Linked DNA regions of Homo sapiens: region 1 is reported to be linked to region 2. Evidence: microRNA targets listed by miRTarBase, many of them from high-throughput screens and not tested one by one. Region 2 holds a microRNA gene; the other region holds the end of a gene's coding sequence.

What was found. Region 2 holds the annotated microRNA hsa-miR-4747-3p (AAGGCCCGGGCUUUCCUCCCAG, at 1,380-1,401, shown strand). A microRNA usually pairs through its seed, bases 2 to 8, with sites in the 3' UTR of a target mRNA and lowers its output. Matches are read on the target gene's strand: a 7mer-m8 pairs with bases 2 to 8, a 7mer-A1 pairs with bases 2 to 7 and ends in A, and an 8mer does both.
Region 1: miRTarBase lists MFAP5 as a target of hsa-miR-4747-3p. Seed matches in the 3' UTR shown: 7mer-A1 at 1,752-1,758.

Annotation. Positions count from the first base shown.
Region 1 is chr12:8,645,398-8,648,397 of GRCh38, forward strand. MFAP5 (microfibril associated protein 5) reads right to left here. Exons shown (of 10, transcript NM_003480.4): 10 at 546-2,806. The coding sequence ends at 2,694. Among named protein-coding and RNA genes, the nearest start is that of MFAP5, 16 kb to the right of the region's middle. RefSeq lists an enhancer at 2,480-3,000.
Region 2 is chr19:4,931,340-4,934,339 of GRCh38, forward strand. It overlaps MIR4747 (microRNA 4747), which reads left to right and starts at 1,348; the gene lies at 1,348-1,401. UHRF1 (ubiquitin like with PHD and ring finger domains 1) reads left to right here. Exons shown (of 17, transcript NM_001048201.3): 5 at 1,402-1,617.

The DNA of each region.
Region 1 (3,000 bases), not on the chromosome of region 2:
TCAATATCTACTGATATTTTTACCAAATTCTTTAATTCTAACATTAAAGATCCATTATTTTGGTTTAAAAAATGGCTTTTCATTGAAAGCCATTGCTTAGCAAGGTTGTCATTTGGGCTCACCAGGAAAAAAAATATATTAACACCTTAATGAGTAAAAACTTTCTTCTGAATCTTCTTTTATTTTTTGAGACGGAATTTCACTGTTGTTGCCCAGGCTGGAGTGCAGTGGCATGATCTTGGCTCATTGCAACCTCCACCTCCCTGATTCAAGCGATTCTCTTGCCTCAGCCTCCCGAGTAGCTGGGATTACAGGCACCCGCCACCATGCCTGGGTAATTTTTTTGTATCTTTCTTAGAGACAGGGTTTTATCATGTTGGCCAGGCTGGTCTCAAACTCCTGACCTCAGGTGATCCGCCCACCTCAGCCTCCAAAAGTGCTGGGATTACAGGCGTGAGCCACCACGCCCGGCTGATACACATTTTTTAAAGTGGAATAAAAGTTCATAAATTCAGGCCTTTTTCGTAAACATAGAAGAGAAAAAGAACCAGAACAAAAGACATTTTATTTTGAGAAATAAATTGGAAAAAAATATTTTAAAATGTTTAATTTGCAATATACATAATACTGGAATTGAAATGCTGTCTGATGGAAATGTTGCAATGTGGAGTAGGAGGGTCAAGTTCGTGAAGATATTCTTAAAATTAATCTTGGAAACTCTGTGCCTATGAGGTTTCTCTAAAGTGGCTAAAATATGCATTTAATATGTTGTCTAAATGAGTACATTTAATTCTAGAGACTGTAAGGAGTAGAGATTATATGCTTTGGGGCTTTTTGTAGCATTTTTTTAAAATCAGTTGTACAGATCCCATTAAACGAAATTGTTTCTTAACAGCAAGAATCTGATCATTTAACTAGTTTTCTCAGCAATATAAAAGGAATACAACCTCCACTGTCATATATAACTTGTTGTCTCCTAGCTCCTATTTGAATTCCATTGGCTTTTATAGAAAGTTATTGAGTTAGTCAGACAGAAGGATTCATGATATATAATTTGTCATTTGTTATAATGGGATTTTCTTCTATTCCATTGTGGACTGCTACCCTCACCTAGGATAAAGCAGATATGGTTGCTATGAATTAGACTGTATCTAAGCTTCAAGAAATATGAATAATGCATTTAAATCCAGAGAATCATAGAATTAAAGGAAATCTTAGAACTAAGAATATATATAATATATATATATATTTCTTAAGATGGACTTTTGCTTTTGTCACCCAGGCTGGAGTGCAATGGCGCCATCTCGGCTCACTGCAACCTCTGCCTCCCAGGTTCAATTGATTCTCCTGCCTCAGCCTCCCGAGTAGCTGGGATTACAGGCACGTGCCACCACGCCCAGCTAATTTTTGTATTTTTAGTAGAGATGGGGTTTCACCATGTTGGCCAGGCTCGTCTCAAATTTCTGACCTCAAGTGATCCACCCGCCTCAGCTTCCCAAAGTGCTCAGATTACAGGCATGAGCCACTGCGCCCAGCAGTACTAAGATAAATTTAACCTTCTCATTTTAAAGATGAGGAAATTAAACCAGGACCTAATGAAGGAAAATGGCTTATCCAAGGCTACGTGGTTACTGCTAGAGCCAGGATAAGAATGTGGGTTGTCTGAATATTGTGTTTCTTTCACTCTTTCGTATTAACTATTAGGCAAACTTTCTGTCTGCCTATTAAAATTCAAGTCTGAATGCCCTTCTTAGGCCCCAATCAGGATATCCAAAAGCCACTTGCACAATAATTCGACCGTGCACTTGTTAAGTTGTGAAGATGAACGAAGTAGCAACTCAAGGAAACGTCAACCAATGGTATGATTTCACATTAAGTTGTCTAATTTGCTTTGTGGTGGTGGGTTCATCCCGGTACTACCCATAAACGAATCAGTAAATGAGACTTAGTTTCCAACCTTACTTCCCGACTAGACAACTGCATGAAAAATTGGATAGCGAATTATGAGTCCAAGTTCTATAGCTGGCATAGTCCTCATGCTTTAGCCCCAGCCTCTGAGCTTAGCAGAAGACATTTTGGGTCCTTATATATTGCTAGTAGGATTGTATAATTCTTGACTGTGTTGCAGAATCTTACAGGACTACAAAACTTACCATGATGTGTCTTATAAGGAAGACTTGCCAGGCAAATTTTCGGGCAAGCCAGCAAAATAGTTAAAGTAAGAGTAAAGAGGAACACGTGAATGATGGGGAGTTGGTCTAGGAAAATATTGTGAGGAAAATAAATGAAATTCTATGGTTAGCCCAAATAGACAAAGATAGCTTCTTCAACCCTAAGATCTATATCAGACAGATTCAATAGTAAAGATTATTAGCCTAAAGTTTAGTCTCCCTTGAAATTGTACATAGAATGTTTGTATATAAGCCATATAGTCATCATCTATTCACTGTGTCTATGATATTGAGAAGCAGCAAAATTATGCAATAATATAGACTTTGTATTTTAAGTGCTAGAAAATGAGATAAATGTTATCAGTTTGGGTGAAAAAGTAGAGAGTAGGGGTAAAAGCTGGACATTGCAAAAGGATTGGTTTAAGAAATACTGTCTAAGGGTTAGCTGTCAATGGTTGGAGAAGAAGGAGATCCTCCTTCCTCTCACCCATACATTTTTTCTTCTTTCCTCTTTTTCAATGATCACAGACCATTGGGTCTCTGCAAATCCACATTTTCACAGGGAGGAAGTCGGAAGTAATTGGAGCGACGGAGTCTCCTAGGGGGCAGACCAGCCATCTGACGGCAAAGCTCATCTAGAAGAGAAGCAGAACATCATGGGAAGAGAATGCAGAAGATAACAAAGGCTCTTGTTTTAAGGGATAGAGAAGACTTTTCAGTGTGGTGTAGTGAAAAGGTTGGAGAGAAAAAGATCCGGGTTTTAACCAGCTCTGCCACTTACTTTAGTTATTTGCCACTTCCTAGAAAGTTTCTTAAATTTTATAAACCT
Region 2 (3,000 bases):
TTGACTTGCTCACTGCAACCTCTGCCTCCTGGATTCAAGCGATTCTCCTGCCTCAGCCTCCTGAGTAGCTGGGACTACAGGTGCCCGCCACCACACCCAGCTAATGTTTGTATTTTTATTTTATTTTATTTTTATTTTATTTTTTCGAGACAGAGTCTTACTCTGTCACTCAGGCTAGAGTGCAATGGCGTGGTCTCAGCTCACTGCAACCTCCGCCTCCCAGGTTCAAGCGATTCTCCTGCCTCAGCCTCCCAAGTAGCTGGGATTACAGGTGTGTGGCCACCACGCCTGGCTAATTTTTGTATTTTCAGAAGAGATGGGGTTTCACTATGTAGGTGAGGCTGGTCTCAAACTTCTGACCTCGTGTTCCGCCCGCCTCAGCCTCCCAGAGTGTTGGGATTACAGGTGTGAGCCACTGTGCCCAGCTTATTTTATTTTTTTGAGACAGTTTCACTCTGTCCCCCAGGCTGGAGTGCAATGGTGTGATCTTGGCTCATTGCACCCTCCATCTCCCGGGTTCAAACGATTCTCCTGCCTCAGCCTCCCAAGTGGCTGGGACTACAGGCGTGCACCACTGCGCCCAGCTAATTTTTGTTTTTGTTTTGTTTTTGAGACAGAGTTTCACTCTTGTTGCCCAGGCTGGCGTCAATGGCGCGATCTCGGCTCACCGCAACCTCTGCCTCCCGGGTTCAAGCAATTCTGCCTCAGCCTCCCGAGTAGCTGGGATTACAGGCATGCGCCACCACGCCTGGCTAATTTTGTATTTTTAGTAGAGATGGGGTTTCTCCATGTTGGCTGGTCTCCAACTTCCGACCTCAGATGATCTGCCTGCCTCAGCCTCCCAAAGTGCTGGGATTACAGGCATGAGCCACCGTGCCCGGCCATGCCTGGCTAATTTTTGTATTTTTAGTAGAGGCAGGGTTTCACCGTGTTGGTCAGGCTGGTCTTGAACTCCTGACCTCAGGTGATCTTCCCGCTTCGGCCTCCCAAAGTGCTGGGATTACAGGCGTGGGCCACCTTGCCCGGCCTCTCCTCTTGTTCTAAAGACACCAGTCCTGTTGGATTGGGGCCCACCCTACTGCAGTGTGATCTCATCTTAATATGATTTCATCTGCAAAGGTTCTATCTACAAAGACCCTGTTTCCAAAAACAATCCTATTCGTGGGTACTGGGGATCAGCCTTTGAACATCTCTTTTTGCAGGGGACACGGGCAACCCATAACAATTTTGTACCTGGAATGTGCCTTAATATACCTGTGTGTTCTCAACACCAGCATATAAGCCTGTTGGGAGGGGCCTCTGCACACTGTCGGGAGGGGCCGTCCCACCTCGGCTCGTTTCCCATTGAGGGAAGGAGGCTTGGTCTTAGCACGGGGTCTAAGGCCCGGGCTTTCCTCCCAGCTACCCGGAGAACGGCGTGGTCCAGATGAACTCCAGGGACGTCCGAGCGCGCGCCCGCACCATCATCAAGTGGCAGGACCTGGAGGTGGGCCAGGTGGTCATGCTCAACTACAACCCCGACAACCCCAAGGAGCGGGGCTTCTGGTACGACGCGGAGATCTCCAGGAAGCGCGAGACCAGGACGGCGCGGGAACTCTACGCCAACGTGGTGCTGGGGTGAGCCTCGCGTCCTGGGGCGAGCCCTTCCTCTCTCCTTTCCTCCCCTCCCGGGGCCCCCGGACTGGCTTTGAAGCCGTCCAGCCAGCGCTGTGTGTGCGAGGCCCTTAGCCTCCGGCCTGGCCTTCCTGCCTCCCCTCTGGGGTCTGTTCCTGCTCACTGCTGAGCATCTTTCTAAGACCGACCACCTTGTGCCCCTGAGTGCCTCTGCCCAGGGAACTGTCTCTGACCCCCAGGCCCTGACAGGCAGAGTTGTCAAACTTCCTTTTTCTCATGGTGTTTTTTTTATCGCTCTGTTGCCCAGGCTGGAGTGCAGTGGTTCGATCTCGGTTCACTGCAAGCTCTGCCTCCTGGGTTCATGCCATTCTCCTGCCTCAGCCTCCCGAGTAGCTGGGACTACAGGCGTCTACCACCACACCTGGCTAATTTTTTTGTATTTTTAGTAGAGACGGGGTTTCACCGTTAACCAGGATGGTCTCGATCTCCTGACCTCGTGATCTGCCTGCCTCGGCCTCCCAAAGTGCTGGGATTGCAGGCAGTGAGCCACCGTGCCTGGCCTCAAGCTTTCTTTTTCTCTCTTGTTTGTTTCAAATTTGGTGAATAGGTCCCATTCACAGGGTCAAAATAGAAAGCACCCAAGACCACACATGAAGGTTCTCCCTCCTCTGCCTGGTCACCCAGTTCCCCTTTTTGGCGACATCACTGTTACCAACTTTCCAGGGACATTCTGTTCATAAACATACACGCCAAACCACACCGCTTAGGAGTTGGCAAACTGCAGTCCACAGGCCTGCTGTGGTCCGCTGCCGGCTTTGACTAATAGTTTTATTGGGACGTGGTCACACCCATTTTTATCTTATTACCTGTGGTTGCTTTTGTGTTATAAGAGCAGAGTTGTGTAGTTGCAACAGAGACTATGCGGCCTACAAAGCTGAAAATCCTTCCTATTTGGCCATTTGCAGAATCATTTTGCAAAGCCTGTTCTTTCTCCCTTGCCTCTTTGTGTGTGTGTGTGCGTGTGTGTGTGTGTGTGTGTGTGTGATAAAATGTATGTAACAGAAAATTTACCTTTTTTTTTTTTTTAAAAGACAGAGTCTCCCTCTGTCGCCCAGGCTGGGGTATAGTGGCATGATCTTGGCTCACTGCAGCCTCCGCCTTCCAGGTTCAGGTGATTCTCCTGCCTCAGCCTCCCAAGTAGTTGGGATTACAGGCGCCCGCCACCACGTCTGGCTAATTTTTGTATATATATATATATTTAGTAGAGTCTGGGTTTCACCATGTTGGCCAGGCTGGTCTCGAACTCCTGACCTCAAGTGATTCGCCCGCCTCAGCCTCCCACAGTGCTGGGATTACAGGCATGAGCCACTGCGCCCGGCCAAAAAT